Regions from separate parts of the Homo sapiens genome. Here region 2 is linked to region 1. Evidence: fine-mapped expression QTL. A gene starts in region 1. The other region holds a variant in brackets. All regions are shown on one strand. Distances are from middle to middle. Region 1 holds the start of IQSEC1 (IQ motif and Sec7 domain ArfGEF 1). Region 2 holds the start of LOC124906214 (a long non-coding RNA gene).

The links. PIP is the estimated chance that this variant, and not a neighbour inherited with it, causes the effect.
Region 2: its variant is fine-mapped to the expression of IQSEC1 in whole blood (TOPMed, PIP above 0.99).

Annotation. Positions count from the first base shown.
Region 1 is chr3:13,069,479-13,077,986 of GRCh38, reverse strand. It overlaps IQSEC1 (IQ motif and Sec7 domain ArfGEF 1), which reads left to right and starts at 4,558. Exons shown (of 14, transcript NM_001134382.3): 1 at 4,558-4,995. The coding sequence starts at 4,973. RefSeq lists silencers at 4,183-4,362, 4,483-4,642 and enhancers at 7,986-8,155, 8,166-8,245.
Region 2 is chr3:13,006,884-13,015,391 of GRCh38, reverse strand. The region is part of intron 1 of IQSEC1 (IQ motif and Sec7 domain ArfGEF 1); the gene reads left to right. It overlaps LOC124906214 (a long non-coding RNA gene), which reads right to left and starts at 5,802. Exons shown (of 2, transcript XR_007095821.1): 1 at 5,131-5,802; 2 at 4,648-4,935. RefSeq lists enhancers at 1-250, 508-1,007, 1,008-1,509, 2,959-3,118, 5,757-5,826 and 3 more. The variant T/C (reference allele first, on the strand shown) is at 4,840.

The sequences.
Region 1 (8,508 bases):
ACCTGGCAAGGCGGCAAGTGGGGACCGATGCCAGCCCTCGTGGCTTTCAGATCTCCATCAGCCAGGACTCCAAAATAGCATCGAGAAGCAGTGGATGTGCTCCATTTCAGGAGCATATCAAGGACTGCTGCTCAACTGTTATAGGGCCAGGGTCTGATCTTCTCCCCCAAGACAGGGGACAGGGCACCTCAGTGATACTTGGTTTGCTGCAGAGGGAGGTGTTTGCCAGGCTTCCAGAAGCCCACACACATTTCCAGAGATAATTGCTTCCGGCTGCTTCCTCCCTCCGTCAGCCACCTGCACGTGAGGGGTGGGGCTGGGCAGAGATGTTAGGAGGGCCCTGCACGAGCCTGCCAGCGAGGTCCTCCCAGCACCAGAGCCCGAGCCCATGTCTATGATTAGAAAAGCCTGTGATTTGGGAACTCAGCATGGAAGAGTCTGTGGTTTAGAGATTCCATGATTCAGTCTTCCAGACATAATGCCGAGTGGGGAAAGAGTTGCAGAAAAAGATATGCAATGTGATCCTACTTATGTAAAGTTTAAAAACGTGCACAAGTGTTTATATGGTTTGTGGATACCTCTCTATGCAGGAGATTCACTACAGAGTGAATTCACCATGGGGATGGGAGGAGGGCAGGGCTGGCGAGGGGATTTAACAGAGGTGGTGACCCTGGGCTTCCATCATATTCGTCATGTTCTGTTTCTTGTAGTGGGTCAGGGGTATATCAGAGTTCACGGTATTCATCTTTATGCCTTTTGGCACATTTTAAATCTTTTATTAAAAAATTCTTAATATTCTGGGTTTGGTGGTGCATGCCTATAGTCCCAGGCTAAGGCAGGAAGATCGCTGAGCCCAGGAGTTTGAGGCTGTAGTGTGCTATGGTTGCTCCCGTGAAAGCCACTGCACTCCAGCCTGGGCAGCATAGTGAGACCTTGTCTTTAAAAAAAAAAAAAAAGAAAGAAAGAAATTTGTAAAATGATGCCATTTTTTTTAGGGTCTATGTAATACTTCCTATTTTCTATAGGCATATATATGTAGATAAATGCATAGAAAAAGTTCTGGAAGGATCCACTCCAAACAGATGACAGCGGTCACCTCTGCAGAGATTGGAACGGGGAATAAGATTTAGGAGGGTGGGAGGTAAAGGGGGCTTTATTTTGTTTAAAGAGAATACATTTTCTTATCATTTGTGCAGTTAGGATTTCATTTCTTTAAAATGTGAAGCTTCAGCTAAAAGAAAATAAAGTCCCCAGACTTGAAGACTGTGTGGTCCTGAGATTTAGAGTCAGAGTGTTGACGGCTTTGCAGTTCCACAGTTGGAACGGAGCAGCGGGGGTGGGGGGTTCACTTCTGCCCAGCCCTGGATGAAGATCCTGAATCCCTGGGATTCGGGGCTCCCTGCCTTGAAGAGCTCTGTGACTGTCAGATCTGTGGACTGCATGCTCCAACCTTCTCCGTCCTCCCTCTTCCCAAATGCTGTCATGTTCCTCCCACCTTGGGGACAGATGGCCGCAGGTTGCAGGAGTGAGCCGATCTGCAGGAATGTTCCTGCCAGCCTGCAGGGTGGAAATTTTCCCGTTGAGGGAAGGGAGATGGATGTGAGATGTTTCTGGACTTACCCCTTGGCAGCTGCTCTCACCTTCTGATCCAAGCGGCTTCCCACAGTCCACAATGATGAGGCAAGGGCAGGGGTGAACTTGGGCACTTACAGAAACTCCAGGGGATGAAAACGCTGTCTGAATGCTAGGTTCCCACTGTGCCTTAGTCTCCAGCCTGCAGAGGTGGGTGAGTGGGTGGATGATTCTGTGATATAACCAGGGTCACAGGGCAGCAACCCCAAGGCTGGCTGCCCCTGCTTCCCACTCCAGACATCTGGTTACAACTGCGAAAGTGAGGAAAGTGGACAATTCCATCCAGAGTTCTGTAGCTCCACTTCTTATGTGATCAGGACCCTCTCACGACCACAGGCTTTGCATCTGGGAGGTGTGGCTGACAAATCTGCCCTGAGATTGGATGTCGAGGGCTTGGGGTCATGAGGTAGGTGAAGCTCAGCCTGCACAGGTGGGCGCGCCCCTTTTCTGAGACTCTCTGACCTCTCACTGCCTGAAGGGATGAACTTGTGGGTTCCGTAGTCAGAGATCAGAGTCGGAATCCCAGCTCCACGCTTTTTGGAGCCTCCTCTGTGCCTGGTCCGGCGCTGGATATTGAATGTCAGAAATCAAAACCGCGCCAGTGCAGGTGGGTTGTAGGCACTACCCACGTGCCCTGTAAATGATGTTTTGTAAAAGCCTAAAATCTTGGCATTTGTATCTGAATGCCAGGGTCCTTGCCATTTCCTCTGCTTTGAAATAACAGCATAACATGGAAGGAAAAGGAGAGTACGTTTATAAGAAGAAGTGCTGAAGAAGCAACGGATGTGCAGATGCATGTCATGGGCCTCCCAGGGAGCAAAAGAGGAAGCCCAGGAAAGGGACACTGGGTGCTCCACACTCAAGGCATCCAATTCACCACTCTGAGCCTGTTTCCGCCTCTGGAAGATGGAAGTGAGAAGAGAATCGCTAGTTGAGCAAGGCGGCTGAGAGGGGCATTGCTCTAGCCCGAGCCAGGCTGTGAGTTAGTCTGGGCTCTGCTGCTGCCTTGATGGGAGACCCCCGTATGTGGTGCAACCCATCTAAGCAGGAGTGGTAATTATGTTCACTTCGTAGGGCGCTTCTGAGAATTCACTGAGACCATGAAACAACTGGACCTGACACAAAGTGAGCCCTCCTGATGCAGTGGCTGAATTTTGATGTTATTAAAATCTTTTGAAACTCCAGTGAGGAGAGGGGTGGGGTGGGCTCTGCAACATGTTAACCCACAGAAATATGAATTCCTCACATGACTCAGGGAGGGAGGTCCGTGCTACAGGAAGATTGGTCATGCATATGGATTCACCTGGAGAGGGCAGATCGGGAAGCGTCATGCAGTTCTGTTCGATGCCTCACCTTGGCCACCTGAGGCCGCAGCTCCAACCTCTGCTCCCTACCAGGACACTGAGCTGGAAGACTGGGGTCCTAGTCCCACCTCTGCCACTCTTTGCTGTGCAACTTTAGGCAAATCGCTCACCCCCTGAGGTTCATTTCCTCCCCTGTAAAGGATGGAATGGAACTCAAGGATGCAGCATCACTCCTTCTAAATTCGGTGAGTGTGAATCTGGAGAGAATGGAAAGAGGAAGGGAAATGGCCCTGTGGGCTGCCATCCACATCCAGCCGATTCCCAGTCTCAACTACTCCCTCTCTCATTTATTCCTCCCAGTGAGGCAGCTTTCAAGCAGTCAAGAACCAAGACTCTGGAGCCAGACTGCCCGCCAGCTATGTGGCTTGGGCCAGTTGCTGAACCTCTGGCTTTAATGCGCTCCCCCGTGAAGTAGGATGATAGTATTAGGCCTCATTGGGGTTGTCTTGAGGATTACCGTGCACGGAAGAATATTATCTACATGCCTCTGAGATAGGTCTGGGATTCCTGGTTTACAGATGAGGAAGCAGAGAGGATCAGATGAACATCAGACAGGAAGAGAGAAATCTGTGTGGGAAAGGCGGGTGTGGGAGCCGAGGATGGATGTGCGCTTCTCCCCTCCACCTCCCTGTCGCACACTGCACCACGCTGGCCTCCTCTGGGCCAGTCAAATACACCAGGCTGCCTTCCGCCTCAGAGCCTTGACGCCAGCTCCTCCCCTGCTTCTTGCGTCATCCGAGTCTCAGCCACACGTGCCTCACAGAGGGCCTTCCCGACCACCCCGTCTGATGGCAGAAGCCTCCTTCCCGCCTCTCTTGGGGTCCCTGCCTCCCCTCTTCCTGCTCTCTTTTCATCCTGATCCTTATCACCACGTGCAATCCTATATCTGCACACTTACTTCCTGGCTTCCCCTTAGACTGTAAACATCATGAGGGCAGATACTTGCCCGGCACATGGAAGGTCCTCGGGAGAGGAAGAGGCACCATAGCTAGACCAGAAATTCTCCCTAGCCACGTGCAGCCCCCTTTGGGACAGGACTGGCACAAACGAGGACTGCTCTGCCATCCACCGTGCAGCTACTGGCGTGGTGCGCCCTCCTGGAACCCCGTGGTATAGCTGTTATGATCCCTTTCACAGTAGCATAATCAAGACTCCCAGGAGAGACGCGGCTTGCCAAGGTCTCATCGCCCTTCAGTGGCAGAGACAGCCTTGGAGTCGGCCGGCCTCACTCCAGGGCCAGAGCCCCGAGAGCTCCGCGGCTCGCGTGTCTCAGTGCCGAAGGCAGAAAAGCCGCCTTGGAAAGTAGTGTCATCGTAGGCTCCGCGCGGCGCGTGCATTTTAGCAACAGACTTCCAGGTTTCCAGCGCGGGCCAGGAAGGGGCCGGCGCCCCGCGCCCCGCCGGGTGTGTGACTTTGCCGCGAGGGCGCAGCCGAGCGGCCGCGCCTGATGCTGCTGTTGCCATGGCGACCAGCGCCTCGGCGATTGGTCCGGCGCGGCCGCACTACGTTGCTCCTTGGGCGCGGGGGGTGGGGGAGGCTCCGGCGCGCCCGCCCCTTCTCCGGATGCTGCGAGAGCAAACCCGGGGCAGCCTTCTCTCGACCCTCCCCTCCTCATCCCCGCGCCCCGCACCCCGGATGGACGGGAGGGAAAAACCCCAAGGTGGGCCCAGGTAGCAGCGAGGTGGACGCCCCCGCCCAGCCTGGCGACCACGGTTACTCGACGTCCTCGCTCGCTCCTGGGCACGGTGTGAGCGCGCGCTACGTGCCAGGGCCCTCCACAGCCCGCTGCTGGCGCCGCCCCCCGCTCCCGCCCCAGCCTCCCTGGAGGAGCCCGCCACCCCCGGGAATGTGACTCGCCCCGCGATTTAATTTTATTCCCCTCCACTTCTTGCCTGAGCCGCCTGCTCCTCTTGGAAACACGTTGAGCCTCCCCGCTGGAGAGGGAGCCAGAACAGGGAAGAACGGATTCACACAGGATGGCTTGCAGAAGACGCTATTTGTGAGTATATGTGGCAGGTTTCTGCCTGAAGCCAGAGGCCAGAGGGGCCCGGCTGAGCTGGGAGCTGGAGTGAGGGGCATCGTTGGGGGAGGGGCAGGTGGATGTGCAGGTGACTTGCAGAGGGAGCTGGCCACCCAGCAGGGATGCCGGCGCTCGGCCCCTGCAGCGGAGGTGTTTGTTGGTGATGACGATGAGAAAAAGGCTATTAGTCAGCAGGTCTTCAGCAGGCTGTGAAATTCCCAACTGTGAGAGCAGGTATCCCCCCTCCCAGATCCACATTCAGGGTGCCCAGACCGGCTCCTACTGTTTTGGCTTTGGTTTAGCCCATAGCCTGTTTAGGAAGAGAATCTCTGCCCAGCACGCCCATGGCCAGCCCTTCAGCCATGCCTGATAGAAGGTCGCAGGCAGGCTGAGGCAGTGGCCAGGATGCTGCGTCCTCCAAGGGCAGGTGAAGGTCCAGCCCACCGTCCCTAGCACGGAGGCATCAGTGTCCAGCTGTGTGCCCAGGTGTTCTGTGGGCTGGCAGCAGAGCGGCTGTGTGCTGGGCCTCACGCCAGCAGCAGAGGCTGTGAAAGTCTGCACGGGGCGGTGACATCACGGGCCCGGGTATTTATGGAAACCAAAGCCTGCGCTTCGGTTAGCCAGGCTTCCCAGGGGGCAGTGGGGTTCGAATGCCAGCTTCCCTCACAGCTCTCTGGGCGCTGCACTGTGCTGTTCTAGGAGGAGCAACCTTTGCCCTCCTCTGGGACCCTCGGCTGCGGGGGTTGAGGCCCAGCGTCAGGTCTCCACCTGCCTAAACTATTTGCCCAGGACCCACTCATTTGGGGCTGTGCAGTGACCTCAGACCTTAGGAGGTTAGAGAGCATGGCTGAGTCCTCTTGAGCTGGGCTCAGTCGCAAGGCTAGGAAAAGGAGGCCTGGAGCAGTATGTGGGGAGCCTTCTGGGGGCTACCCCAAGGCCTCCCTAATCGATGGAGGCCCCTTACCATGGCAGGGGCCTGTGGAACCCCTGATAGAGTGGCAGCTCCCCGTCACCTCCACTGAGGGAAAGTAAACACACCTCTGCCTCTGCTGCGTCAGCAGTGCCAGGCGGCAACCCACGGGGGATGGCGGTGGCCTCTGGTTCGGGGGATGGCGGTGGCCTCTGGTTTGGGGGATGGCAGTGGCCTCTGGTTTGGGGGATGGCAGTGGCCTCTGGTTCAGGGAATGGCAGTGGCCTCTGGTTCGGGGGATGGCGGCCTCTGGTTTGGGGGATGGCGGTGGCCTCTGGTTCGAGGGATGACGGTGGCCTCTGGTTCGCTGTGATGCTCACTTGCTTTTTTAGTGGAGAAGCTCACAGGTTGGTTTGTCGATGCGAGCAGAGCACACCAAAGTTCTCACTCCCTGTGGCAAGGCCCTCGCTGCATTTTCTGAAACAAATAGTAAATCCTTTCCCAGCGTGGAACTTCCACCCCAGTGGCTGGGAATAGGTCCTCCTGAGACAGCTGTCTCCTCCCTGCCACACCTTTGCCTGGGCCCAGGAGCCTGATGCCAGAGAAATTCTAAACTCTCAGGGCTGTTACATCGGGGAGGGGAGATGTCATGAGGATGAAATGTGACAATTCATATTCAGATTACTTGGCCCAGTGCCTGCTTGCCTCCAATGCTCAGAAATGTCATCCTCACAAAGGCCTTGTCTGGGCAGGCACTAAGAACCCCATTTTAGAGATGGGGAAACTGAGGCTCAGCACAGTTCTACTGGAACCCTGGAGTATACTAGCCTGGGGTGGGGGTTGTAGCCCAGGAGCTATACTGGAATCACTTGAGGAGCAGTTAAAGAAACAAACAAAAAAAAAAAAACAAAAAAAAACTGTGTGGGTCCCACCCCCAGACATTCTGGTTTCTAGGTTTGGGGGAGGGCTCAAGCCTCAGGATCTTTTTCATTTTCCGGATGATTTTAATGTCCAGGTGTGGTTGATGTTCCCGTGATGCAGCTATTCACTGTGGCTGCGTTGCCCAAGCCTATCCAATTGCAGTTTTGCAGGGACAATGTTCTATATGGATTCCAATACTCTTCCCTGGAGAGTCTGCTTCAATCTGTTGGGGGCCCAGCCACCTGCATTTGAACACGTGGCTCTGGTGGATTTGCTGATTCCTGGAATAAGCTCGTCTAGCCTTCCTGCCTAAGAGAGGGGCTGGCCCGAGGGGGCTTAGCGCTCACTGTCTTTCTTTTCTGTGGGTCTTTTCACTCTTCTCCAGCTCTCAGGCTCCCAGTCTGAGCATTGTGACTCCCAGGCCATCCCCGCTCTGCCACCAAACCTATTGGCACCAGAAATACCAAAGATACTTGGAGGGGGTGGCTCTGTTTGTACGCAAGGATCTTGTAACCAAGAGCAGGCCTTTCCTGAGGTTACCCTGCTGCACTTGATAAGCCTGTGTTTGCCCACCATTACTCCCCACCCAGAACCCGCGGCAGGCCCACTTCTAGGCCCAGGCTCTCCCAGCACCTGCTGCTCAGACCTTATTGTTACCCTGCCTTTCAGTGTGGAAAGGAGATGGGGTGTTGAGCATCTCTAGATGTTTAACTTTCCCAACAGTTGCACTGTAGCCACTATCAGAGCTGCCCAACTTGATTGCAAAGCGTTCTCATGCTTAGTTGCCTCATGGGGTCTCACCAACTGCTGTAAAATGTGATACTGTCGATCCCGTTTTACAGAAGAGGAAACTGAGGCTCAGAGAGGGGAAGGAACTTGACTGGGGTCACACAGCTGTTTCCTGCCGTACATTTGGCAGTGGTGTCCCTTCCCCAGCATGCCACATGTCAAATCGGGACAGACTTGCTCCAGCGGCCCTGTGCATGGCACAGCCAGGCTATCCTCAGCCTAGTGGAGCCCTGCCGGCGGGCCCCCACCCCCACCCCACTGTCCTCACTCCCTAGCCTCCATTTTCGCCACTTCCACTCTCTGGGCCCCTGGTGTGCACCCAAGGGAGCTTTATGGAATCGAGACTCTGTCCCGGTCAGGGCTCAGTCCATCGTGAAGGTGGCACACTGGATGGGATAAAGGATGACAACAAAAGCAGGAGAAGATTTCTTAACCCAATGGGGGAACATCAGGAGGCTTCCAAGAATCAGACCCTGAATCAAACTTGCTAACACCTGAGGTCATTGCTGTACTGGCAGCTTCATGAATGGTGTCTGAATGAAGGATGGCCCTCAATTCTGTAACTACAGCATCCTTTTCATCATCTCTGCAAGGGGCCCCTCTGTCCTCATGGGCATGTCACATCCTGTCACTTGAACACAGGAAGTGAGGCTGTGAGGAGTTTGTGGTGTGTGAGATGTGGGCTGCTTGGCCAGGCCAGTGGAGCACTCGCCTACCCATGCCTGTTCAATCATTCATTCACTGCCTGGAACTGTCCCGACCCCTCTCTTCCTTCTGTTTGGGGGACATGATGACCTGCCGGCCCCCGCAGGAGGCAGTGGTCTCCCTCTGGTGGGATGCCCTGACCTGCTGCTTGCAGTGGGGCCTTCATG
Region 2 (8,508 bases), 63 kb after region 1:
CCTGGGCCCAGGAACACCAGGTGTTTCCCCACAGCCGCAAGGGGAAGTTCTTTAGCTCCCCTGCGCGTTAGACCAGCCCCAGGCCCCATTAGGGTTGAGAACCAGGGCCCCGCAGCCCACCTGGATGGCAGGGAGTGTTGGGTCGCTGCCTACGGCCCTCACAACCACCCTGAGAAAGATGGACTCTTGACAATGCCCAGTTTACAGCCGAGTAAACTGAGGCCCTCAGAAGTCACACAGAAGTCAGAAGTCCTCAGAGGCCCTCAGAAGTCACACAGTGGCCCAGGGCTCCTGGAGCATATTTGGTGTGTTTCCTTCCCACACTGCTGCCCCCCTCAACCCTATGGTGCATAAACTTTGAGCAAATGGAGGTTTATGGCTGAGGGAACACAAGGCTTCCCCAGGCTGTGTTGAGGAGACACTGCCTTGCAGAAGTCTTCCCTGCCCCAGGCTCGCTGGGGCCATTTCCCATCTGGCAGTAGCCCAGTATGTGTCCCCCCAGGAGCCCCTTGACCCACTGACAAGTTCAGTATCTTTCTGAAATGATCCAGAGTGGAACCTTGAGGATCTGTAGATCCCTGGGGCTGGGAGCGTGTTGGGGGATGTTCCCTGGGTTCTGAGCTGTAACCCCTGAGCCTGACCTCTTGGGGTCCTTGGGCCAACAGCCCCTGGCTCACTGGGGTCATCAGGGAGTTCAACAGATGGGTCAGAGGAAGCTTTTACCGACCCAGCCTCAGGGAGCAGCCTGGGAGCTCTCACTCCCAGCCAAGCCTCCCCCACCCCAGCCCTGGCTCTTGGGGGCAGGCAAGACAGATAGCCCTTTCCTTAGGACTGGAGCCCAACCAGTGGCAGATGGAAAAAGTGAGGCCCAGTGATAAGGAAGCAATGGGCACCTTCACCCCTGCCCCCACGCTGCAGACAGAAGGCTGCTCAGTGCCCTGAGGGGTCAGTCACTCTGTCTCAAATCCCAGCTCCCCAGTGTGCCCCAGCCATGTGACATGGGACAGATGTCCCAACATCTCTGGGCCTGGGTTTCCATATAACCCATAGCGAAAGTCCTCCCTTCCGGGGTTGTTGTGAGGCTTAGATGGTGAAGCAGGCCTCTGTGGGGAATCTCCCTGTGGGCGTAGGTGACTCTGGGTTCCCATCTCACTGAGAGATTTACCAGGGCACAGTGCCCCTCAGGCTGGTTAGGGGAGGCTTGATGACCCCAGTGAGCCAGGGGCTGTTGGCCCAAGGACCCCAAGAGGTCAGGTTCAGGGGTTACAGCTCAGAGCCCAGGGCTCTGGCCTCCAGCTCAGCTACCTCCAGCAGCAACCTGCCTTTGTTGGGCGCCAGGGCTCAAGCTGGGGAGCCTGGCCAGGTGGCTGCCCACACCTGTGTTCAAGGCCCATTTCGGTCCAGCCCAGCAGAGGCACAGAGCAGATCAGAGCCCCTGCTGCCTGCCTGGGGACTTCAGGGGAGCCCATCCTGAGGCCTCATGTCCTCACCTGTGAAATGGCCAGGTGTAACCAGGAGCCTTTAAGCACTCCATGACTCTGTGCAGAGTTTCATGCACATCATTCATTTGTTAATTCAGTCATTCAACAAACATTTATTGGGCACCTACTGTGTGCCAAGTACTGTCTTGTCTCTGAGAGTACAAAGGTGATAAATCAGATAAACCATCCCTTCCCTTCTTGGTGTTGGGGAGTCAAGCAATATATGACTAACGCAATGCATGCATGATAGGTCATGGGGATGACATGTTCTGTGAAGGAGAGTAGGGCAGAGGAAGGAGATGGGCGCAAGGAGGGGTAAGCGGTTGGTTGTATTTTATTTTAATGGACACATGTCACCTATTAGAAAACACCTGTAGGCCATCAGGCAGCTGAGGGCAGGTTGGAGGGTCCACACTGTGGCCTTCATTCCCTGAGTCCCTTGTGGGCTAGGCCAGTGTGAGCTGTCCTCTGACCTGCATGCAAGGGTGAGCTCATTAGCCCCATCTGATGGACTTGCAAACCAATGCCCAAAAATCCCAACCAGTGTAACTCCAGTGGCTTCTGGGAAAGAGGTGAGGGGACTCCGCCGGCAGAGTGGGTATCTGGACTGTACTCAGCGTGTGGGAGCATTGAAGTGGCTATCAGCCGGGCCTGGGGTGTGGTCAGGCTGTGGTTAAGAGCCCAGACCTTGGGAGGCCAAGGCGGGCGGATCACTTGAGGTCAGGAGATCGAGACCAGCCTGACCAATATGGTGAAACCCCATCTCTACTAAAAATACAAAAATTAGCCGGGCGTGGTGGCGCATGCCGGTAATCCCAGCTACTTGGGAGGCTGAGGCAGGAGAATCGCTTGAACCTGGGAGGCAGAGGTTGCAGTGAGCCTAGGTCGTGCCACTGCACTCCAGCCTTGGACACAGAGCAAGACTGTCTCAAAAAAAAAAAAAAAAGCCCAGACTTTCATGGGAGTTTCTGTTCCACTGCTTTCGTAGCTATGTGACCTTGGGTGTGTTGGGTCCCATCTCTGAGCTTCACTTGGTCAGTGAGGGCTGTCTTAGTAGCAAGTGACAGAAAATCCAAACCTAACGGGCATAAGCAGAAAAGGGGTTTCATTGCCTCCTGGAACTGAAAAGTCTGGAGGGTAACTAGCTTCGGGAATGGCGGAATCGCAGTGTTCATATATGGATTTGGACTTTTCAACTCTTACCTCTGCTTTCCTTCCTACTGTCTTCACTGTGAGGCAGGCCCTCTCCATGTGGGCATCCCTGGCTCTGTGCCCGGCATGTAGCAAGTGCTCAGAAAACATTAGGCATTTCCTTTCATTCGGTCGTCACCAGCCCTGTGACAGGCCAGCTGTAGGGCCCAGGCTGTGGTGAGCAACACATCGTTTCTGTCTTGGGGATGTTCACAGTGCTCTGTGGGAGAAGGGACTAGAAAAGAGGAAATGACTACACATGGCACTCAGGGCTGAGAAGGGGGTGAGCTCTGAGGCCTGTGGGAGCCCAGAGGAGGGACACTGGAGTTTTTATCTGGAGGAGTTCCCCAAAGGCTTCCTGGAGGAGGTGGCAGATGAGCTAGATTTTAGGAGCAATGGAGGAGGTAGCCTGGCAAATGGCAACTGAGGGAGCAGGGGCCTAGGGTCGGGTTCAGGACTCATACACAGTGGAGCTGACCTGGCTGTGCTAGGTTCTTGGAAGTCCTGGCTGAACTCAGAGAACTGGTTCTTGGGCCATGCCGGGGGTGCAGGCAAGTAAGCCTGCATGTGGGTGAAAGGTAGCCCCAGCAGCAAGGCTGTAAGGAAAAGAGGGAATGAGCACTTAGTGTACACCTACCGTGTGCCACACCCCCTCCATATGTTGCCTCATTCTGGCCACTCCGCAGCCTCTGGTGGTGCCTCATGCCCACTTTGCAGAGGATGAGCCACAGGTTCTGATCAGGTGCTGGAACAAACCACCCTTCTTAAGTGAGTCCCCCACGAACTTAGAATTTGAGACTCACTCATTGGCCAGGCTCAATGGCCTCTGTTCTGCTATCAAGAGGCTGCTGGGATGTTACCCATGGCAGGGATAGATGGGGAAGTCACCATATTCAAAACAATCATGTGTTGAAACACCTCCCCAGCTTCTGATCTACCGGTAGTGGCAGCGGAAGCAAATACAGCAAATCTGAAACCCGATGCCTACAGAACAGGGGTGTGAAATGTGACGCCAGAGGCCCCCACACAGAAGTGGGTGTGGACAGCCACCTGCCTGTGAGCAACCAGGGGAAGCTAGCTTGGTGCCGAGTTTACACAGTGAATGTTAAAAAGACTTCGAAGCTGGCCCCAGTGTATTCGCACACAGTTGAGAAAGGCCAGGGAGGATAACAAGGGCTAGAATATAGGGTCAGCTCCCTACAGTTGCTGTAACCCCCTGGGCAGCTCCCTTTACTTCTCTGAGCTTCAGTGACCTCCTCTGTAAGTGAGGATAACATTTCCCAGAGTGAGGATTAAATAACATTATGCATGGACCTGCCCATAGACAATGACCTAGCAATGGCTCAGTGAGTGTCAGTGATGATTATCCCCAAGTAAAATAAATTTGAATTTAAAATTTTAAAAATGGTCATTTTTGCATCCATTGTCTTGAGCCAAATGGGAAACGGTTTGGTTCAGCCTCTAAGCCCCTGCGGGTAGGCCCTGGGTCTTTCAGCCCTGTGTCTGCTGGTACGCCTGGGGCTCAGGAAATGCACATGGTGTGTTAAAACCAAGTTTGAATTTGTCAAATCCCAAGTCAATCCAGGATGTTCATTTCTTAAATGATACAGTGAGACAAAGTTTTTTTGAAGAGGAAAAAGAAAAAAAAAAGTGAATTTCACTCTGGGGAAATAAGCAGAGTGATGGGAAGCTGGAGGTAGATGCCACTGACACTCAGAGTGGTGGAGGAAGTGTGGGGAGGCTTCCAGGAGGAGGCAAGCTCTAGTGAGCAGGCACTGCTCAAGTGGGGAGTGGAGGAGAGTTTGGGTAGAAACTGTAGGTCGAGTCTTCATGGTGTGTTTGGGAAACAGCAGTCTTGGGTGATACCTGTCTGGGAGGGATGAGGGCCAGAGTTCAGGACAAAAAGGAAGGCAAGTGGGGCCCAGAGCCCAGGGTGCTGGCCTCTCCCTGCAGGCATGAAGGAGCCGCCAGGAGCTTTTGAGCAGGGAGTTTTATTAACCAGTATTTGTTTGGTTGATTAAAAAAAAGAGGCACCCCAGACTGGCTTGACGGGCTTAAGGCAAAGGCTGAATTTATTGCCTTCTGTTTCTGAAACAGACAGGGCTTCAGGTACAGTTGGATTCGGGGGCTCAAACCATGACCCCAGACGCCGGCCTCTTTTTCTCTT[T/C]TTCCATCTCTTTGACTTCATTCCCGGACAGCCTTTCTGCCCAGATGGCCCCAACAGCTCCAGGTCGACATTTGTCATATCCAGGCAGAAACTGTTCTGACAGAATCGACTCTCCATGGTTAGCTTAGACCACATACCCATCCCTGGACCAGTCACTTGAGCAGGGGGGATGAACTACTCTCTCTGATAGACCAAGCTCGGTACTGCATTCACCCCTGGAGGTAGCTGACCCAAATTAGATGGACTGAGAATGGAGGATTGGATTCCCCAAAGAAAATTGGGGTGTCTTACCGGAAGTGAGAATGGAGGCTGGTCAGGCAGAAACATCCTGCATCCACCATTGCGACCTGCTAAGACTTGTGGGCTGGTCATTCCGCCACTATGACCTGCTAAGACCTGCCGGCTGGCCAGCTGAGCCATGTGTTCTGCTATGCATCATCCCTTCGGGTCAGCCCCGTGAGGTAGAGTTTGTTATGATCCCTATTTTGCAGATGAGAAAACTGAGGCTTAGGGAGACACAGTCACTTGCCGAAGGTCACACTGTTAGCAAATGTCCTCAAATCCCAAATCAGCTTGACCTGAAGCCCAGAATCTTAACCACATGCTCCACTGCCTTACAGCAATCAGCAAAGAGTTTGAAGAGGATGCCTAGGGAGCTTGGATGGAGGACAGGCTGGCAGAGGAGACTGGAGGCAGAGGATGGGAGTAGGAGGCGGGCGCCACACTGGCAGAGAGGAGGGATCCTAAGACATAGAGCTGTGGTGTGCTAAAGCCCGGCTCTCAACGCACTGTCAGCTTCACTTTTGTTGTTGTTTCCTTATATAGATAAGATATCTGATAAAATATCTAATCAGCAAAGTACATACACACACACACACACACACATATATATATACAAACATACTAATTATTATGCCTACTGGTTTCTGCTTGGGGTGATCTTGGCAGGAGGAGGTGAGGGATGAGGGTCCTGAGCCTGGAAGTTGGAGTTATACTTGGGCTGCGGGCATCTGGGGCATTTCCGGGGGAGTTACCCCAGGAAGTGGTCAAAGGGAGTTGGCCGCCCACCTGGCTCAGGGCCAGGGCGGAGAGCGGGCAGGATGGGGAAACAGCCACTCTGCGCTTCCCTTTTCAGCCCTAAGGCTTCTCAGGCAAGGTCCCGCCTCCCTGATGACATTACACCATGTCAGAAATCAGCCTGCCCACACCCTCATGGCACAAAGGGGAAATCAAGGCAGCAGGCCATTTAGCTTCACCGCCACCACATGGAGAGGTGTGGCAGTCCGGGCACCGGTCCTGGATTGGCTGTCACCGCACTGTGTGACCTAGGGCGAGTCACCAGGCCTCTCTGGGCCTCAGTTTGACATCTGTAAAATAGACCTATGAAGACAGAGCAGGCACATGAACAAACCTTGGCAAATAACCTGACCCAGTGCCAGGCACTTCACAGGCTGTCAGGATTCCTTCCCTGTGTGGTGATCTCTCGGAATCACAGCCTTGGAACCCTGGAGAGGAAAAGGGCTGTCGATCTCAGAAAGCCAGGCCAAGACCCAGCTCTGCAGCATACAAGCCATGTGGCCTTGTGCAAGTCACTTCACTTCTCTGGGCCTCCATTGCCTTATCTGGAAAATGGCTTAATAAGCACCCCCTCATGCATGAATGAGAGGGTTAACTGAAAGCCTAGCCCGTGGGATGGGGTTTGCCAGCGTGTCTGGTTCCCACTGGGTTAGCTGGATATCCCCTCCTCTGTGAGCTCCCCTTTCTGCCCTGGAGCCGGATCAAGAGCGTTGTTCTATCAGTAACTCGACCAACTAATATTGACTGTGTGCCCAGCACCGCTCAAAGCAGTGAGGACACCAGCGTGAGACCCCCTCCCTCACAGAGCTGGCATTTGGGGGTTGGGGGAGGCAGAGAGGTGACAAGTAAACAAACACACAAACGAGCATTTCCAACATCACAGTCAGGAAAATGAAGCAGGAGGCTGCAGTGGGGAGCGACTTGGCGGTGGTCAGTGAGGGCCTCCCTGAGGAGGGGAACTGAGAGCAAGAAGGAGGTGGCTAGCAAAGATGGGGGCCAGCCAGGTGGCAGAGGGAAGAGGAGTATGAACAGCCCCCTGGGGATTCAGGCTCAAAGGACAGAGGGTTTGGAGACTAATGGCAGCACTCTCAGAGAGGACGTCTGGGTTGGACAGTGGACAGCCTGACGGTCACTGGTGGAGGATGCTTACCTCATTCTCTAAACATTTGCTGGAGGGAGGGTCAGCTGAGGCTCACCTCTGAGCTTCGACGCGGGAAGGAGAGGTGTCCAGCTTGGCCTCAGACCCCAGACGGAGGGTGACAAGGTGGTGATGGTAATGGACGGACATAGCCAGGAGAGGCAGCTAGGTTCAGTCCTGAACTTCAGAACTGCCAAGAAGTACCTAAGTAACCCCGTTTCATCTTCAGGTACAGACACTCAGAAGGCCAGGCACCTGGCCCCTCCCTGGGGTTCCTGGGGTGGGCTTATGGAAGGGTAGTTCCTCTGCTCTCTCACCTGGCTTCCTAGAGGAGTGCAGGCTTAGAAGGTCAGAGCTGCAAGGACTTTGAGAAATCACCAAGCTCTCCTCCCACAGGACAGGGGATTCTGTGACCTTGCTCCGGGGAAGGGTGGGCTCCATTGGTAAGCTGGACGTGCTGGGGGCTCTGGACTCTGGGGCGGGGTACGGGTGGGGCCCCAGAGACAGGGAGGGATGGCTGGGCTCAGCCCCAAACTTCCAACAGCCAAGAATTACATTTCATCTGCAAGCACAGAAACCGCAGAGATAGGCAGACCCAGAAGTGAGGAGTGGGTGGCCTGCGGAGGCTTTCAAGCAGCAGCAAAGAAAACGGGATGTTTTTCAAGTGCGAAATGGGTGATAAGCTCTAATGTGTGTAGGAGTATGGTCCCAACTATGATCTCATTCCATTCTCACAATAAATCCTGTCCAACAGGAATATCTGCCCTATCTTGCAGGGGGGGAAACTGAGGCAAGCCAAGTGACTCGCGCAAGTTCCTTGCCAGCCAGAAAGTGGCAGCATCAGAATTGAGACCTAGAACCTAGCTTTCCTTAGAGACACGGAGGGTGGACCGGTGCAGTGGGTGGGGCAGGTAGAGAGCCAGGCTGGCCTCTGCCCTCCTCCCAGGGGCAGCTGGGCCCACAGCTGGCGTCCCCACTACTCAGTTCTCTGGATGTTTAGAACGGCCGACAGGCCAGTTACAGAGCCAGCCCCACCTGCTCTGTCTGGATCCCGCATACCAGCTGGAGACAGAGTCCTTGCTGCAGCTCCCCTGACCCTCTTCCTAGGGGTTCTGTCCCCCGACCCTAAGTGCCTTGGGCTCTGTCTGCATGAAGACACGTGATTCCCTCCCCACAGTCTCATGCAGCCCCTGCCAGCTTCCTCTCCTGCACTCCACCCTTGTGAATTAGGGGCACCCCTACCACTGCAGGGATGGGGGCCAAAAAGACCTGGAGGAGGACAAAGCCTAGCAAAACCGACTTTGGACAAGTGTCTCCTGCTCCTGAATCTGTTTCCTCATCTATAAAATGGGGAGAGAGATACCCGCCGGTAGCAGAGCTTTGTGATTTTGACTGCAAACATGTCAGGAGAGGCCAGGCTGCAGGGGCTCCGCCAGTCAGAGCCCGGCCCAGAG